2 separate regions of the Homo sapiens genome follow, and region 2 is linked to region 1. The links come from fine-mapping of genetic effects on gene expression. Tissue or cell type: monocytes after R848. Region 1 holds a variant in brackets; the other region holds the start of a gene. All regions are shown on one strand. Distances are from middle to middle.

What was found. PIP is the estimated chance that this variant, and not a neighbour inherited with it, causes the effect.
Region 2: DNAH17 starts here. The variant in region 1 is fine-mapped to the expression of DNAH17 in monocytes after R848 (Quach 2016, PIP 0.95). The same link has a PIP of 0.9 or more in monocytes after LPS.

What each region holds. Positions count from the first base shown.
Region 1 is chr17:78,531,030-78,539,029 of GRCh38, forward strand. DNAH17 (dynein axonemal heavy chain 17) reads right to left here. Exons shown (of 81, transcript NM_173628.4): 19 at 6,270-6,452; 20 at 1,453-1,707. It also overlaps the pseudogene RN7SL454P. Among named protein-coding and RNA genes, the nearest start is that of DNAH17, 42 kb to the right of the region's middle. RefSeq lists an enhancer at 1,339-2,538. The variant G/A (reference allele first, on the strand shown) is at 4,503.
Region 2 is chr17:78,572,753-78,580,752 of GRCh38, forward strand. It overlaps DNAH17 (dynein axonemal heavy chain 17), which reads right to left and starts at 4,644. Exons shown (of 81, transcript NM_173628.4): 1 at 4,543-4,644; 2 at 1,961-2,330; 3 at 1-142. The coding sequence starts at 2,305.

The DNA of each region.
Region 1 (8,000 bases):
GTAAAGTGTTCTGTAGCTGTCTGTTGGTCCCTGTGATCTAAAGTGCAGTTTAACTCCAATGTTTCTTTGCTGATTTTCTGTCTAGATGATCTGTCTGACGCTGAGAGCAGGGTGTTGAAAACCCTAACTGTTACTGTACTGGGGTCTCTCCCTTTAGATCTACCACTGTTTGCTTTATATATCTGGGTGCTCTGGTGCTGGGCGCATAGATATGTAGAATTGTTAAATCCTCTCGCTGAGTTGATCCTTTTGTCATTACATAGTGACCTTCTTGGTCTCGTTTTACTGTTTGTGACATAAAGTCTGTCTTTTTTTTTTTTTTTTTTTTGAGATGGAGTCTTGCTCTGTCACCAGGCTGGAGTGCAGTGGCGTGATCTTGACTCACTGCAAGCTCCGCCTCCTGGGTTCACACCATTCTCTTGCCTCAGCCTCCCGAGTAGCTGGAACTACAGGCGCCTGCCACCACGCCCAGCTAATTTTTTGTATTTTCAGTACAGATGGGGTTTCACCGTGTTAGCCAGGATGGTCTCGATCTCCTGACCTCACGATCCAACCGCCTCGGCCTCCCAAAGTGCTGGTATCACAGGCGTGAGCCACCACGCCCGGCCGACATAAAGTCTGTCTTATCTGATGTAACTATAGTTATTCCTACTTGTTCTTGGTTTCTGTTTGTGTGGAATCTCTTTTTCTATTCTTTTGCATTCAATCTGTCTTTACAGGTGAAGTGAGTTTCTTCTAAGCAGCATATATTGGGGTTACCTTCATCCATTCAGACAATCTATATCTTTTAAGTGGGGAATTGAATCCATTTACATTTGAGGTTATTACACTGACAGGTGTGATTTTCTGTGTTCTTCATGCTCTGACATCTGGGGCCTTGCCCATGGACGACCCCTCCCAGGCCTAGTCAATTTTGAGAGACAACAAACAATTCACCTGGGGGTGTGGTTTCATATGCAAATGAGCCAACCCGGAGCCCACACCTCCGACCATCCCCTTGATGGGGCTCTCACAGGGTTTTACCTTCTGGGCTGCTACCCACTAGCCCTCAGCCCTCATCTCCCTGAGGTCAGGTACCAGACAGCCCCTATAGCCTAGAGCCTGCTGAAATTATTCAAACTTGCCAACCCTAAGCCTGTGACCTCTGCCCATTCCTTCCCTGGAAGCCACAATAAAGGCTCTTTATTTTCCCCACATTTTCCCCAGCTCCCTCTGCCTCCTGACTGACCCTGATGCTACCCCGTGCAGGCCTGTGTGGTGTGCTATGCCCCCTTCTTGGGAACTGTAAGTAACAAACTGCCTTTCTAATGGTGGTCACCTCCTGATGTTTGCCTTGCCCTACCTGGAAACCTGCATCTTAAAACAATTCACCCAAGTTTTAAAGCAAGCCTGGTGATCCTCTCCTGGAAGACTCTGGAGACAAGGAGGCTGGTGGGTGAGGTCTGCACGCACCTGCTCCTGGAACTGAGCCAGGGTGGGCGGTGTCTTGGGGATGGTGTCATCTGTCCAGGTGTCCAAGTCCTCCGCAGTGACTGCACACCCATATATCAGGAAATTCTTCATAAACTCCTGCAGGTTGTCCGTCCAGAGGTAGGAGTACCTCTCAAAGGAATCCTGGTACTCCTCGGCCTCCTTCATGGCATTGATGACCAGGCTGGACACCTCCTCCCTCATCTCTATGAGGTCTGTGTTATCTTCCAGGTCCATCTGAAAGGGGCAGGGGAGAAGCAAAAAGGGGAGGTATGTTGCCTGGTTCATAATTTAGGTGTTGTCCTCTCGGCCTTGAGAAGTGGTTCTCTGTTGGCGAAAGGGCTTCCAATCTCTCATGATGACCTGCTCTTTTTCCAGCCTGGGCCGATCACCCCTCTTTAGGCAACCTGGTGGTCCCCCACTCCTGGGAGGTCACCATACTGATGCCAAACTTAGTGGATAGCACACTACAGCCCAGAACTCCTGGGCTCAAGCGATCCTCCTGCCTCAGCCTCCCAAGTAGCTGGGACCACAGGCACGTGCCACTGTGCCTGGCCCAAGCTCTCACCACGGGAAATAGGAACCTTTGCCGATTTGCAATATTCTGCCATGGGAAGGTATGCCAAGTGTGACGTTTGTCTGGGGAACCCCGAGATGACTCACACATTGATTCATTCATTCGATAGCTCGCTCTCACTGCGTACCACATGCTGGGATAGATACTGGGGCACAGGCAGGGAGTGTACAGCCCAGGAATGGGGTCTGACATTCATCAAAGAATCACAGAAAAAAGCATCTCCACCCTCCCCCTTGCTTCAGGTGAAATGGGGAGCAGGTCAGGGAATGGCCCCGAGGAAATGGCCATTGGTCTGAGAGCTGATGGATGGGTAGACAAGGAGCAAGAGAAGCGGCTTTCCTGGCAACAGCAAAGCACGTGCAAAGGCCCCGTGGTGGGAGGAGGCAGCGTGTTAGGGGAACTAAAGGAAGTCTACTGTCGGTGGCTAGAGCAGAGAGCACGAGAGGCCAGTGCTATACGGATCTTTTTAGTTGCCAGTGACAGAAAACCCAACCCAAACTGGTTAAGCAAAGAGAGAACTCGTTGGCTTATATACAGGACTGGAGAATCCCAAGGTGGTCGGTGTGTGTATTAATCACATTTTTATTGTCTGCATCTTATGAAATTTTGACATCTTATTTCTTTTTGAGACAGAGTTTCGGTCTGTCACCCAGGCCGGAGTGCAGTGGCCCGATCTCAGCTCACTACACCCTCTGCCTCCCAGGTTCAAGTGATTCTCCTGCCTCAGCCTCCCAAATAGCTGGGATTACAGGCTCCCACCACCATGCCTGGCTAATTTTTTGCATTTTTATTAGAGGCGGGGTTTCACCGTGTTGGTCAGGCTGGTCTCAAACTCCTGACCTCAGGTGATCCACCTGCCTCAGCCTCCCAAAGTGTTGGGATTACAGGCGTGAGCCAATGCGCCCAGCCCAATTTTGACATCTTAAAAAAATAAAATAAAAAAACCTTATGGGCCAGGAAGAGCCGGCCTTTCCCAGGGCTAGGCAATTCTTTGAGATAGCAAAAGGCTCATCTGGGGGCATGCATATGCAAACCAGCCGACCCTCAACCACTCCCCTTTACCCAACTCTCACACCAAGCCAGTATTTCCCCTGCCCTAAATCACCCAGGGTCAGGTACCAGACAACTGAAGACAGCCTATAGCCCAGAGCCCACATGACAGCTGCAGAGAGGCCCCATCGGGACCCAGATGTGCATGGAGATCTTGTCTGTGCAGGGGACCTCGTTGGTAAGGGGTGGCACGAGGAAACGGTGTAATTGAGGAGGTGAAGTCAGTGGGGCTGGGATGGAAGGGGAAGGTTGGCCCTAGGGCTGGGCCGGGCCACCCTGCATGTAAGTTGTGGATGGAAAGAAGCCACAGGGGAGAGAAACCTGAAGCTCCTCGTGGCTGCAGGAAAGCATTTGGTGTGTGCTTCAGAATTCAGCCATGGGCTCGCCTGTGCCTGACATTTGGCTCCCACCCCTCCTCATGGCCCCTCTTTCTGCTCAGGGTTGGGAGTGCAGTGTTCAGAGCACAGGCAGGTGCTTCTGGATTTCAGTGTTGTAACTTCCAGGCATCTACCTGCTCCAGCTGAGATTGTCCCCTGCAGTCCTTTGGATCTCCCCAGGTGGGATCCAAGTTCCAGTTGGGCTGGGCTGGTGGCAGCCTGGCATACCAGAGGCAGGTGAGACCTGCTGCCTGGGGTCTCTGCCCCTTGCTGGTGTCCCCTGTGGGCAGCTCAGCTCTCTAAATCCCTGTGGCAGCCTGGGGCCCACATTCTATCTCCTCCTTGTCCTGACCCAACTCCTCTGGGTTGGCCACCCTGGTACCCATGGGAAGCATCCCTTGGGTACTCTCTGCCACCAAGCTAGGGTACTTGGGTCTCTGGGAAGTGGCCCTGGGACCCAGCAGTCTAGATGCCTGACTCTCTCATTGTCTTCCACAGCTTGGCACCAGGTAAGACTCTGCTAGACCAGCAGGCTTTCGAGGGACCCTTCTCCTGGGCAACAGGCCCTTCAGCTCTGGAATGTTCTGCCTGAGCGTCCCAGGGTGTCTGCAAGGCAGCCTGAGTGTTTGTGCTGGCAGAGCCCAGGGGTGGAGCAGCTCTGTCTGCAGCAACCGTGGGTGCCCAAGAGCAGCCTGCTTTGGGGACAGTGGGAGGGGCACACCCGGGACACACTGATTCTGAGGACATGTGCTAACCTAGCGTCTGCATAACTGGGGCAAATTCTATTCTCAACTCTGGAACAGCTTGCTGCTTGCACTTGGGCCTAAAATCACAGCCATCTTCTCAGCATGGAAACCTCCTCCCACCCTTCCAGAATCCGCTCACACGCCCACTCCTCTCAGGAGCTGTCCTTGACCTTCTCAGGTCATTAGCTGTTCCCTCGTGTCCTCATGTCACCTCTGTACAAGCATGCCTCCCCACCACACATGCAAATACGCACACGGGCACATATGCATCCAAGCACACGC[G/A]TACACACACGAGCACACGCACATCCCTCCCTCCTGGACAGGACAGCTCATCTCGCTGTAAATATATGTTATGACAAATCATACGTGTCCATTATTTTACAATTCAAACAACGCAGAAATGCATGAGAGGAAACGCCTGCAGCCACATCCCTCTCCCCTCCCCTCCTTCCTCCCTTCCTGGTAAGCACTCACCCAGATTTTTGCTTGTTTAAGCAAATGAAACCATATTCTAAACATTGTTCTGTAACTTGATAAATGTCTAATAACCTGTCACAACACCTTTCCATCCTTGGCTCATTGTGACAATTCACAGAATCTGGGTTTGGGCCAGAATTGGTCAAGCCACTCCCCTCTTCCACAAACATTTAGGTCACTTAAGTCTTTTCAGATTTTTTTTTATTGCTATACAAATAGGTGCTTTGACAAACACACCACCTCAAACCTCCCTTAAGCGGGGAGCTGAATTTCCCATGACTTTTGTTGTCCTTCCTACCCCAGAGCCTGGCCAGGCTCTCCGTGTGTCTTGTTTGATGCGTTTAGACGAGATGATTTCAGAAGGCAGTGGGAGGCACATTTGTCAAATTGCCTGAGTACTGGGAGAATCAGTGTTTACATTACAGGACTGAGGCCGGGCACGGTGGCTCACACCTGTAATCCCAGCACTTTGGGAGGCCAAGGCGGGTGGATCACAAGGTCGGGAGATTGAGACCATCCTGGCCAACATGGTGAAACCCCGTCTCTACTAAAAATATATAAAAAAAAAGAAAAATTAGCCAGGCATGGTGGCATGCACCTGTAGTCCCAGCTACTCAGGAGGCTGAGGCAGGAGAATCGCTTGAACCCAGGAGGCGGAGGTTGCAGTCAGCTGAGATTATGCTACTGCACTCCAGCCTGGGCAACAGAGCAAGACTCTGTCTCAAAAAATAAAAAAATTAAGAAGTTTAAGACCACTCTGGGCAACAACATGGCAAAACCCCATCTCTACAAAAAAATACATCACCAAGCTGGGCTTGGTGATGCATGCTCGTAATCCCAGCTACTTGGGAGACTGAGGCGGGAGGATCAATTGGGCCCGGGAGGCAGAGGCTGCAGTCAGCCGAGATTGAACCACTGCACTCCAGCCTGGGTGACAGAGTGAGACCTTGTCTCAAAAAAATTACAGGACTGAGTGAACAGTCAGGAAGTTGGGAAAGGTTACCCTCTTGGCATCGTGTCGGGGGGTTGGAAGGATGATGAGGGAATGAAACCCAGGCAGGTTGACTGAGAAGAAGCTGCTTTGGGAAGGACGACAGATGTGGGAGTGGGGAGAGAAGTGGCCATGTCATCCTAGAGGTCACACGATGTCATTTAAAAGGTAAGCAGGGCCGGGCGCGGTGGCTCACGCCTATAATCCCAGCACTTTGGGAGGCCGAGGCGGGTGGATCATGAGTTCAGGAGATCCAGACCATCCTGGCTAACACGGTTAAACCCAGTCTCTACTAAAAAAAAATAAAAAAATTAGCCGGGTGTGGTGGCGGGTGCCTGTAATCCCAGCTACTCGGGACGCTGAGGCAGGAGAATGGCTTGAACCCAGGAGGCGGAGGTTGCAGTGAGCCAAGATCGCGCCACTGCACTCCAGCCTGGGCGACAGAGTGAGATTCCGTCTCAAAAAAAAAAAAAGAAAAAAAGAAAAGGTAAACGGCGAAGCCTTGCCGAGTTAGGGCGGCAACACCAAATGGGGAAAGCAATGGATGACCCTGTGTACGGCCAGAAGAGGCCAGGACTGACCTTGTAGTTCATCCTGTCCTTGGCCAGCCGAGGGATGAGCCTGGCTACGTTGTAGATGTCGTTGACCAGGCCCTCGATCAGTGCCAGGAAGCCGCGATCTGAGCCCACCTCCAGGGTCGGGTTGAAGGTCAGCCCATCCTCGTCCAGCTCCATGCGGATCTCAAACAGGGGAGCGATACTCTCCTGAAAGAGGGGTGGGGTTGGCAGTGGTCAACACCTCTGTCCTCCATCGGATGATTCTCAGTGCCCTGATCATCCACTCCGTACCATCAATGTGTCACTGCCTTCCACTTATCTGGGAAGCTTCTGAGAGCTCGTGTCTCAGCGCACCCCGCTCCTTGAGCAATCGCTACAGAGCCAAATGTACAGCCACAAGGCCAAAAGCAGGCAGGGGCAGGTTGGGGCAAGGGGAGGGGCAGGATCAGGTAGAACTCAGACCTCGGTTCAAAGCCCACACCTGCTACTTGCCAGCTCTGAGGCCTTGGGGAGTCACTTAACTCCCAGTTTCCCCAAATATATAAAATGAGGCTAAATATTTTATAGAATGGAGACATTGTTGGCTAGGCGCAGTGGCTCATGCCTGTAATCCCAGCACTTTGGGAGGCCAAGGCGGGTGGATCACCTGAGGTCAGGAGTTTGAGACCAGCCTGGCCCACATGGCGAAGCCCCGTCTCTACTAAAAATACAAAATAATTAGCTGGGCCTGGTGGTGGGTGTCTGGAACCCCAGCTACTCGGGAGGCTGAGGCAGGAAATCGCTTGAACCCAAGAGGCGGAGGTTGCAATGAGCTGAGATTGTGCCATTGCACTCCAGCCTGGGCAAGAGCAAAACTCTGTCTCCAAAAAAAAAAAAAAAAAAAAAAAAAGAATGGAGACATTGTTTCCATTGTTCTGGGTTACTACAGGGGCTAAATGAATCACTGACACACAAAGCAGGTACTGCAGGGGCTGGCCAAGCCTGCCTGTCCCTCTCCCTTGGAAGTCCCCGTTTACAGAGTTCTGGAGGCCCCTGTGAGGCTGCAGGGCTGCAGGTGCTGCTCTGGTTTACAGTGATGGGATTGAGAACCCAAGTGCTCTTCCTGCCAAACTAACGATTCTCAAAATGTGGGCCAGGATCCACCAGGCTGTGAGATCACACTGTGGCCACTGATCTCCCCCTGAATGAGTCCCCATTGGACCTGTGGGTTATGAGCTTTTGAGCCCCCCAATTTGTCTATGAGCAGGAGGGGGCTGTATCAGTATCTGAGTGAGGTGCTAATTGGGACAAACGGTCAATTGTGTGACCAGACTTCTCTAAAGACTCAGGTCGGCTCCTGCCCCCAGGCTACTCACAAAGTAGGAGGACTCCCTGGAACTCTTTGAGGAGAACCCTTTGTTACTGGGACTTCTTTATGGTTTTTGTTGAGACGCTTTCACTGGGACAGTCTGTAGTGACGAGTACTTTCGTCAACTGAATTTTGGGTCTGTGACTGGTTACCAGCTGGCATCTGAGACCCATATGCCAGACTCAAACACCATCCACCCTCCCTGGTCGGTACAAGGGCACGACACTGCCACGTTCCTTTGTTGTTGGTAGCCTGGGGGAGCCTTTGATCTTGGCCTCCTGGCGGTACTCAAAATCATTTAGAAACCATCTCAACAAAAAAGATGCAGGGCTGGGCACAGTGGTTCACGCCTGTAATCCCAGCACTTTGGGAGGCCGAGGTTGGTCGATCATGAGGTCAGGAATTCA
Region 2 (8,000 bases), 42 kb after region 1:
GCAGCAAGGTTTTGCCTTTGATCTTGCCACTCATCACAAACATTTCATTCTTCAGCCTGTGGACCTGCTTCACGATGTCTTCCGAGACCACCTGGGGCCATCCAGCCATGTTCTCACTTTGGTTTAACAGAGAAGAGAGGACCTAAAAGGAAACACTTCTGTGGTTCCGCCCCCTGTGCCTTCACCAGCTCGGCAACCGCACAGAGCCAGGTCCCCGGGGGGTTCCAAAGACCCGGTGTCTGGAGCCCTGGGAAAACTGGGTCCCGCACAGAGCCAGGTCCCCAGGGGGATTCCAAAGACCTGGTGTCTGGAGCCCTGGGAAAACTGGATCCTTCTTCCAGAAGGAGGTGTGGCCGGTCATGGAGTTTATACCAGCTGCCCTGTCCTGGTGGTACCAAAGCCATCCCCAAGCTCTTGCACCCATAGCACACACTCCTTGCTAAAAGCCTAGGAGGACTGTGATGGGTCAAACTGTGTCCCCCAAATCCATCTGCTGAAGCCCTAACTCCCAGCACCTTAGAATGTGACTATTTGGAGATAGGGTCTTTAAAGAGGTGAGTAAGGGCTGGGGGCGGTAGCTCATACCTGTAAATCCTAGGACTTAGGGAGGCCGAGGCAGGTACATCACCTGAGGTCAAGAGTTTGAGACCAGCCTGGCCAACATGGTGAAACCTCGTCTCTACTGAAAATATAAAAATTAGCCAGGCATGGTGGCACCTGCCTATAATCCCAGCTATTTGGGAGGCTGAGGCAAGAGAATCATTTGAACCTGGGAGGTGGAGGTTGCAGTGAGCTGAGATCACACCATTGCCCTCCAGACTGGACAACAGAGCAAAAATACTGTCAAAAAAAAAAAAAAAGAGGTGAGTAATTAAAATCAGATTACTAGGGTGGGCCCTAGTCTGACAGGTGTCCTTACGAGGAGGGGAGATTAGACATGCACAGAAGGCCGACCACATGAGGACCCAGGGAGAAGATGTCCATCTGCAAGTCAAGGAGAGAGGCCTTGGGGAAAACCAACCCCGCCGACACCTTCAACTTCAACCTCTAGCCTCCAGGACTGTGAGAAAATGTCTGGTGTACAAGCGAAGCACACAGGCCCCTGTACTGCAGATGAGAAGAGTGATGACCAGGAAGGATAAGGCACCCCCATTCTGGAGGTCCGAATCCCCAAAGTGTGTCCCCCCCACCTACACAGCACCTGCCAAGGGGGACAGCAGAGGGACACATAAAATGACACTCCATTTTTTCCCCTTTCTTAAGTCAAAGTCTCAAAATTGGAGAAACCTATCTGCCAGTACTCAGTCCCCACCTTCCCAGGCCATGGGCAGCAACCGTACCCGGCACAGCATGGCAGTCTCAATGCTGTCCAGAGAGAACAAGGGGATGCTCGGGGCTTCTCAGACTTCAAGGGCACGAGCACCACCTGGAGGTCTTGTTAGACAGCAGGTCTGTGGCCGGGCATGATGGCTCACGCCTATAATCCCAACAGTTTGGGAGGTTGAGGCAGGAGGATCGCTTGAGCCCAGGAGTCTTGAGACCAGCCTGGGCAACAGGCTATTTTTTGGTGAGACCTCATCTCTTACCAAAAAATACGAAAATTAGCCAGGTGTGGTGGTGCATGCCTGTGGTCCCAGCTACTCAGGAGGCTGAGGCTGGAGGATTGGTTGAGCTTAGGAGGTTGAGGCTGCAGTGAGCTGTGCTCCCACCACTGCACTCCAGCCTGGGAAGCAGAGTGAGACCCTGTCTCAAAAAAAAAAAAAAATTTAAAAACCAAAAGCAAGCAGGTCTGTCTCAGCAGGTCAGGGTGGACGGGGCCCGAGCGCCTGCATTTCCAATCCCTCCCCGGCTCTGCAGCTGCTGCTGGCCCAGGGACTCCAGGCTGAGCAGCAGGACTCAAGGCCGCTCCCGAGAAGTCGGTCGTGCTCGACACCCCGGATGGCAGCCTGGACGCACTCACCTCCTCCACCACCGCGATCAGCTGGTCCACGGGTGTGGGGCTGATGTCGCCGTAAAGGAGCCGGGCCCTGTAGTTGTCCTTGTTGATGTTCTCGGACTTTGTCTTGATGAAGTAAACCCCTTTGGACTTGAGGGACTGGGGGAAGCCCAGGCAGGGTATGATCATGCCGGCTGCATTGAGCGTCAGCACCAGCACCTGGACGTCGGGCTTTTCAAAGAACTCTGTGAACAGGGCCACGTTCTCCTCGGCGCCTATCAGCTTGCTCCACTTGTCCGGCTTGAACTTCAGGACGATGGAGGCAACTTCCTCCAGATACTCTAGTCTGACGTCCGGGGCCATTGTCATCTTGGCCTTTCCTTACACTGTGTATCTGTTAAGAGTGCAAGAAACAGGTACGAACTGTCTCCCGGGCTCCCCAATTTCCCACCCATCCCTGGCACCGCAGGAAATCTCTGTTTCTACCGGAGCAGGAACAAAACAGTTGGTCGAGAGTGTGCAGTTTTTAGCTGTGGTTGGGTTGGGGTGGGGGTGCTTTAGCAGGTGCTGGCACCTGCCCCGGCCCCGCCATGGGGGGTGCCCCGGGAGTGAGGCTGCCCAAAAGTGGTGTGTGCTTACAATCCTGTGACCATAAAGTTCAGAGGATGGGAAAGATAGAGATGAATGCTGGAGAAAGAGAGAAAAGGAAATGGCCGCAACCAGACAGTGTGAAGGGGATGGGGTAGGAAAAGGCAGAACAAGAGGCTGGGGGGTCAGGTTGAAAGGTCCTGGGAAAGCAATAAAAGACGTCGCAGCCCCAGAGTATGTGTGAAACGCAAGAAGGAAGCAGACCCCACGTGCAGGCCGTGAGGCTCAGCGCTCAGTCTTAGCCGCAGCCGTGGTGCACCTTAACTTTCACTCTGCTCTGCACCCTTTCTCCCTCCAGCCCCCAGCGTGCACCCCTAAAAGAATCGAGCTGCAAATTCCTGACAGACCCCTCACAAGCTGCTCAGATGCTCGGGGGTAGGGTTAACTAGAGAATTGGGGGGAAGGGATCCCCTTAAAGAACACCCTGAAGTCCCAAAGTTTAGGCAAGTGAGGTACTTACAGAATTTAAAGACACACCCAAACAGTCATCAAGAGAAAAGGCATGTCAATATTTTTAAACATCAAAATGAATGCAAACAAATTTATGAACAAAATACCAAAGTTTCAAATAAAGACAGGCTCTGGCAAGAGGCCTGAGGTGGGGGCCTTGGAGGCGAGTTCTGCAAGGGCAGGGTTGAATGCAAAGGGTCGCCTGATGCTGTGTTTTCATCACAATCTGGGAGGTATGCAGCTCCTGAATTTCAAGGGGAACCCTGGGGTATTCAGCTGCTCTGGGGGTCCGTGGGCTGGGGCTGGCCTGCTCCAGACCTGGCAGCTGCTGAAAAGCATCAGGGTGGACAGATGACGTTGGAAGCACTCACAAATTCTGCCTTTTGGTTTGACCCAAGCTATTGCTTTTAAGTTTGTAACAGCCTACAGTTCCCCAAAAGACACGTAATACCACGGAACAGGTTTATTTCACCCTGGCCACTATATATCGGCAAAACAACTATATGATGGGAAGCAGTAGTGGATAGCATTTGGATGCTATTCAAATGGTCTGAGATTTATTCAAGGCTCCAAACATCTCTGAGAGAGGACTTGGGGAATATTTGGCCAGCAAATGGCAGAAACATGGCGGTCCACGAGCAAAGCCACCCGATTCAGGCACATCTGTGAAAGAAAAAGGGGACACCACCAGGCAAGTAGGAGGAGCACCGCGTGGCATTTATGGAGATGACTCGTTCACCAGGTTCCCACAGGGCTTTCAGCATGCTGCTGAATTAATCTCCACCCAGGATCTCCGAGACCCGGGGACGCGTCACGTCGTCATTTCCTAGGGGGATCAGGAACTCAGGGGAGCCCGAGTCCTGGAAGGTTCCTGATTGGAAGTCTCGCCAAGCTGGTCAGGCGACTGGACTGGAGGGAAACATCCTCTGGTTTACTGATTTTGTGGATTTGGGCTTTCACAAAGTCATCTTTTCTTCCAAGAACGGCATGGGGTGGGCTGCCTCCCAAGCCATAACATGTGTGGGCTGAGGGGCCCCTACACCCCGCAAGTTTCTTGCACGATCGGGAGGTCTCATCTCAGGCTCCCACCCAGCCGTTTCCTGGGCTGAAGGCCAGGAGGTCCCAGTTAACAATAGGGTTGTCCCAGGCCATGCTTCCGGAGGGGCAGAGACGGCTTCTCTGGGAGGTGGCCCATGCCCCAGGCCTTCAGGACTCCACAGGAGGAAGCTGGGGCTAGGGGCTTCCAGGAGAAGCCAGGGGGCTGAGGCAAGGCCTTCCCAGGAGCAGGGAAGAGTCTGGAGCCCTGGAAGGGGTCAGGCTGGTACGTGGCAGCCAGCCTCGGGGTCCCAGAGCCATGAACAGCTCCCGGTGGCGAGCAGAGCCACTTCTGGGGTAAGTGGAGGGTCTGCTGTCTGCCAGGGCCTAGGTCCCACCTCCATCCTCTGAAGGCCTCCCTGCTCCCTCCACCTTGGCCTCCGACTCCCCCAGCATGGTTGAAGGCCGCTCACCAGCTGAAGGCAAACAGCTTCTCCCGCAAACTGATGAGCAACTCTTTCCCAAACCAGGAAAGAAAATGGCTCCCTTCCCTCGAGGGGCTCCAACTGCCACATAACTTCTGGGAGTCTCCTCACGGTACCTGGGGCTTCTAGAACCTTCCCCTTGGGACCCAAGTAACCAATGATAGCGCAGCAAATGAGGAACCAACCGTCACCCCACAGTGGAAAGGCTCTTAGATGATCATTTTGAGGGGAGGTTGGAGGGGGGACAGGGTCGCGCTCTGTTACCCAGGCTGGAGTGCAGTGGTACAATCATAACTCACTGCAGCCTCAAACTCCTGGGCTTACGTGATCCCCCCCCCTCAGCCTCCTGAGAAGTTAGGACAACAGACGCACATCACCACACCTGGCTAATTTTTGTACTTTTTGTAGAGATGAGGTCTCACTCTGTTGCCCAGGCTGGTCTCAAACTCCTGGCCTCAAGCAATCCTCCCAAAGTGGAAAGGAAGACATTATCTCTGTTTACAATAAGGTGATCTTGTATGTAGAAAATCCCAAGAAATCCATAAAATTGTAGAGCTAATAGAGGAATTCAGCAAGTTTGCAGTATACAAGATATTTGAAAATTAATTATATTTCTCTGTAATTATATTATGAACAATCTGATGATGAAATTTAGAAAACAATTGTCCCCATAATGAACAATCTGATCATGAAATTTAGAAAACAACTCCCATTTACAACAGCATCAAAATAATTTCGTTTACAATAGCGTCAAAAACAACAAAATACTTAGGAATAAACTTTAAAAAGAAGTGTTAAGACTTGTACACTGAAAACTGCAAAACATCATGGAAATAAAGACAACCTAAATCAATGGAAGGACATGCTGTGTTCATGGGTTAGAAGATTGTTAAGACGGGCCAGGCGTGATGGCTCACGCCTGTAATCCCAGCACTTTGGGAGGCCAAGGCGGGTGGATCACGAGGTCAGGAGATCGAGACCATCCTGGCTAACACGGTGAAACCCCATCTCTACTAAAAATACAAAAAAATTAGCCGGGCGTGGTGGTGGGTGCCTGTAGTTCCAGCTACTCAGGAGGCTGAGGCAGGAGAATGGCATGTACCTGGGAGGCGGAGCTTGCAGTGAGCCGAGATCCCGCCATTGCCCTCCAGCCTGGGAGACAGAGTGAGACTCCGTCTCAAAAAAAAAAAAAAAAGAAGATTGTTAAGATGACGACAGTTCTCCTCAAGTTGATCTGCAGATTCAACACAATCCTTATCAAACTCTCAGCTGCCTTTTTTGTAGAAATGACCCTAGATTTTATAGGGAAGTATGAGGGAACAAAAACCATCCAAACAACTTTGAAAAAGAACAAAGTCTGAAGACACACACTTCCTGATTTCAAAACTCACTACAAAGCTACAGTTATCAAGACAGTGCTACCAGCATAACAATAGACAGAGATCACTAGAATAGAATTGAGGTTCCAGAAATAAATGCATCCATTTATGGACGATTGAGTTAGCAAAGGTGCCAAGACAACTCAATGGGAAAAGAATCACCTTTTCAACAAATGGTATTGGAATAACTGAATACCCACATGCGGAAAAACGAAGCTGGGCCCTTACCTCACGCCATCTACACGAATTAACTCAGCATAGATTAACAGAATGCAAGAGCCAAATGTAAGAGCTAAAACTATAAAACTCTTAGAAGAGCACACAGGAGTTGATCTGACCTCAGATGAGGCAATGATGTCTTACATATGATGCCAAAAGCATAAGTGAGCAAAGGAAAAAAGATAAGTTTAACTTCATCAAAACCAAAAACTTTTATGCTTCAAAAGGCACCCTAAAAAAGGGAAAAGATGACCCATAGAATGGGAGAAAATATTTGCAAATCATATATCTGACAAGGGACTTGTCGTAATACAATAAAACAACCTAATTTTAAGGAGTAAAGGATATAGATATTTCTTCAAGAAAGATACACAAATGACCAGTATGCACATGGAAAGCAGCTTGATATCATTAGCCATTAGGAAAATGCAAATCAAAGTAAAATGAACTTCAATGAGGTCCCTAGAGTAGTCAAATTCATTAAGTAGAATGGAGGTTGCCAAGGGCTAGGGAGGGAGAATAGGAATTTATTTTTTAATGGGGCCGTCAGAGGCATTTGAACCAGAGCCACTCCATTTTGAATGGGGTCTGGGTAAAATAAGGCCCTACTGCATTCCCAGGAGGTGAAGGCATTCTTAGTCACAGGGTGAGACGGGGGTTCAGCACAAGTCATAAAGAGCTTGCTGATAAAACAGGTTGCGGTAAAGAAGCTGGCCAAAGCCCACCAAAACCAAGATGACCTCTGGTGGTCCTCACTGCTACACTCCCACCAGCACCGTAACAGTTTGCAAATGCCATGGCAATGTCAGGAAGTTACCCTAGATGGTCTAAAAAGGGGAGGCATGAATAATCCACCCCTTGTTTAGCATATCCTCAAGAAATAACCATAAAAATGGGCAACCAGCAGCCCTCAGGCTGCTCTGCCTATGGAGTTGCCATTCTTTCATTCCTTTACTTTCTTAATAAACTTGTTTCACTTTACTCTATGGACTCACCCTGAATTTCTTCTTGCACGAGATCCAAGAACCCTCTCTTGGGGTCTGGATCTGGACCCCTTTCTGGTAACAGGGTCAGAGTTTCAATTTGGGATAGTGAAGAAGTTCTAGAGATGGATGGTGGTGGTGTTTTTACAACGATGTAAGTGTACTCAGTGCCACGGAACTGTACACTTAAAATGGCTAAAATGGTAAATGTTATGCTCTGTGTATTTTCCCACACAAAAAAACCCCAATTCATTCCCACTAGAATGGATAAAATTGAGAAGACAGAAAAAAACAAAACAAAACACCAGGCACGGGCAAGGATGTGAAGGAATTGGCACCCTCATCCACGGCTGATATGGTATAAACATTGCAGCCACTTTGGAAAAGTGACAGTTCCCCAAAAGGTTAAACATGGGGCTACCAATTAGCTACCCCCTCCTAGGGGTGCACCAGGGAGAAATCAAAACACACACATATTCGCAGCAGCATTCTTCATAATAAACTAAAAGTAGAGGTGAAGGAAGACCTCTGTCCCGGCTCAGAGGGACATGGGAGGGGTGGCAGGGTCCTGTCCCCGGTGGGCTGAGGGCAGCCACATTGGCAGCAGGGTGCCCGGCAGCATCCCTGCCATGTGAGGATAGGAAGGCCACCCTCGGGCTCTCCAGAAGCTACCAGGGAAGGGCAATGAACGGAACAGACTTTGTACAATCTTAGGGTGTGTCCACCACAGAAGTTGGCACTGTCCCACACCAACATCCAGGAGCAAAATCAGTGCCACTAAACCGTCACTTCAGTTCTGCATATCACCCCAGAGCTCCCAGACACAGGGGTACTCAGCAAGCCCCCACAAATTCCAGCTGTCTGC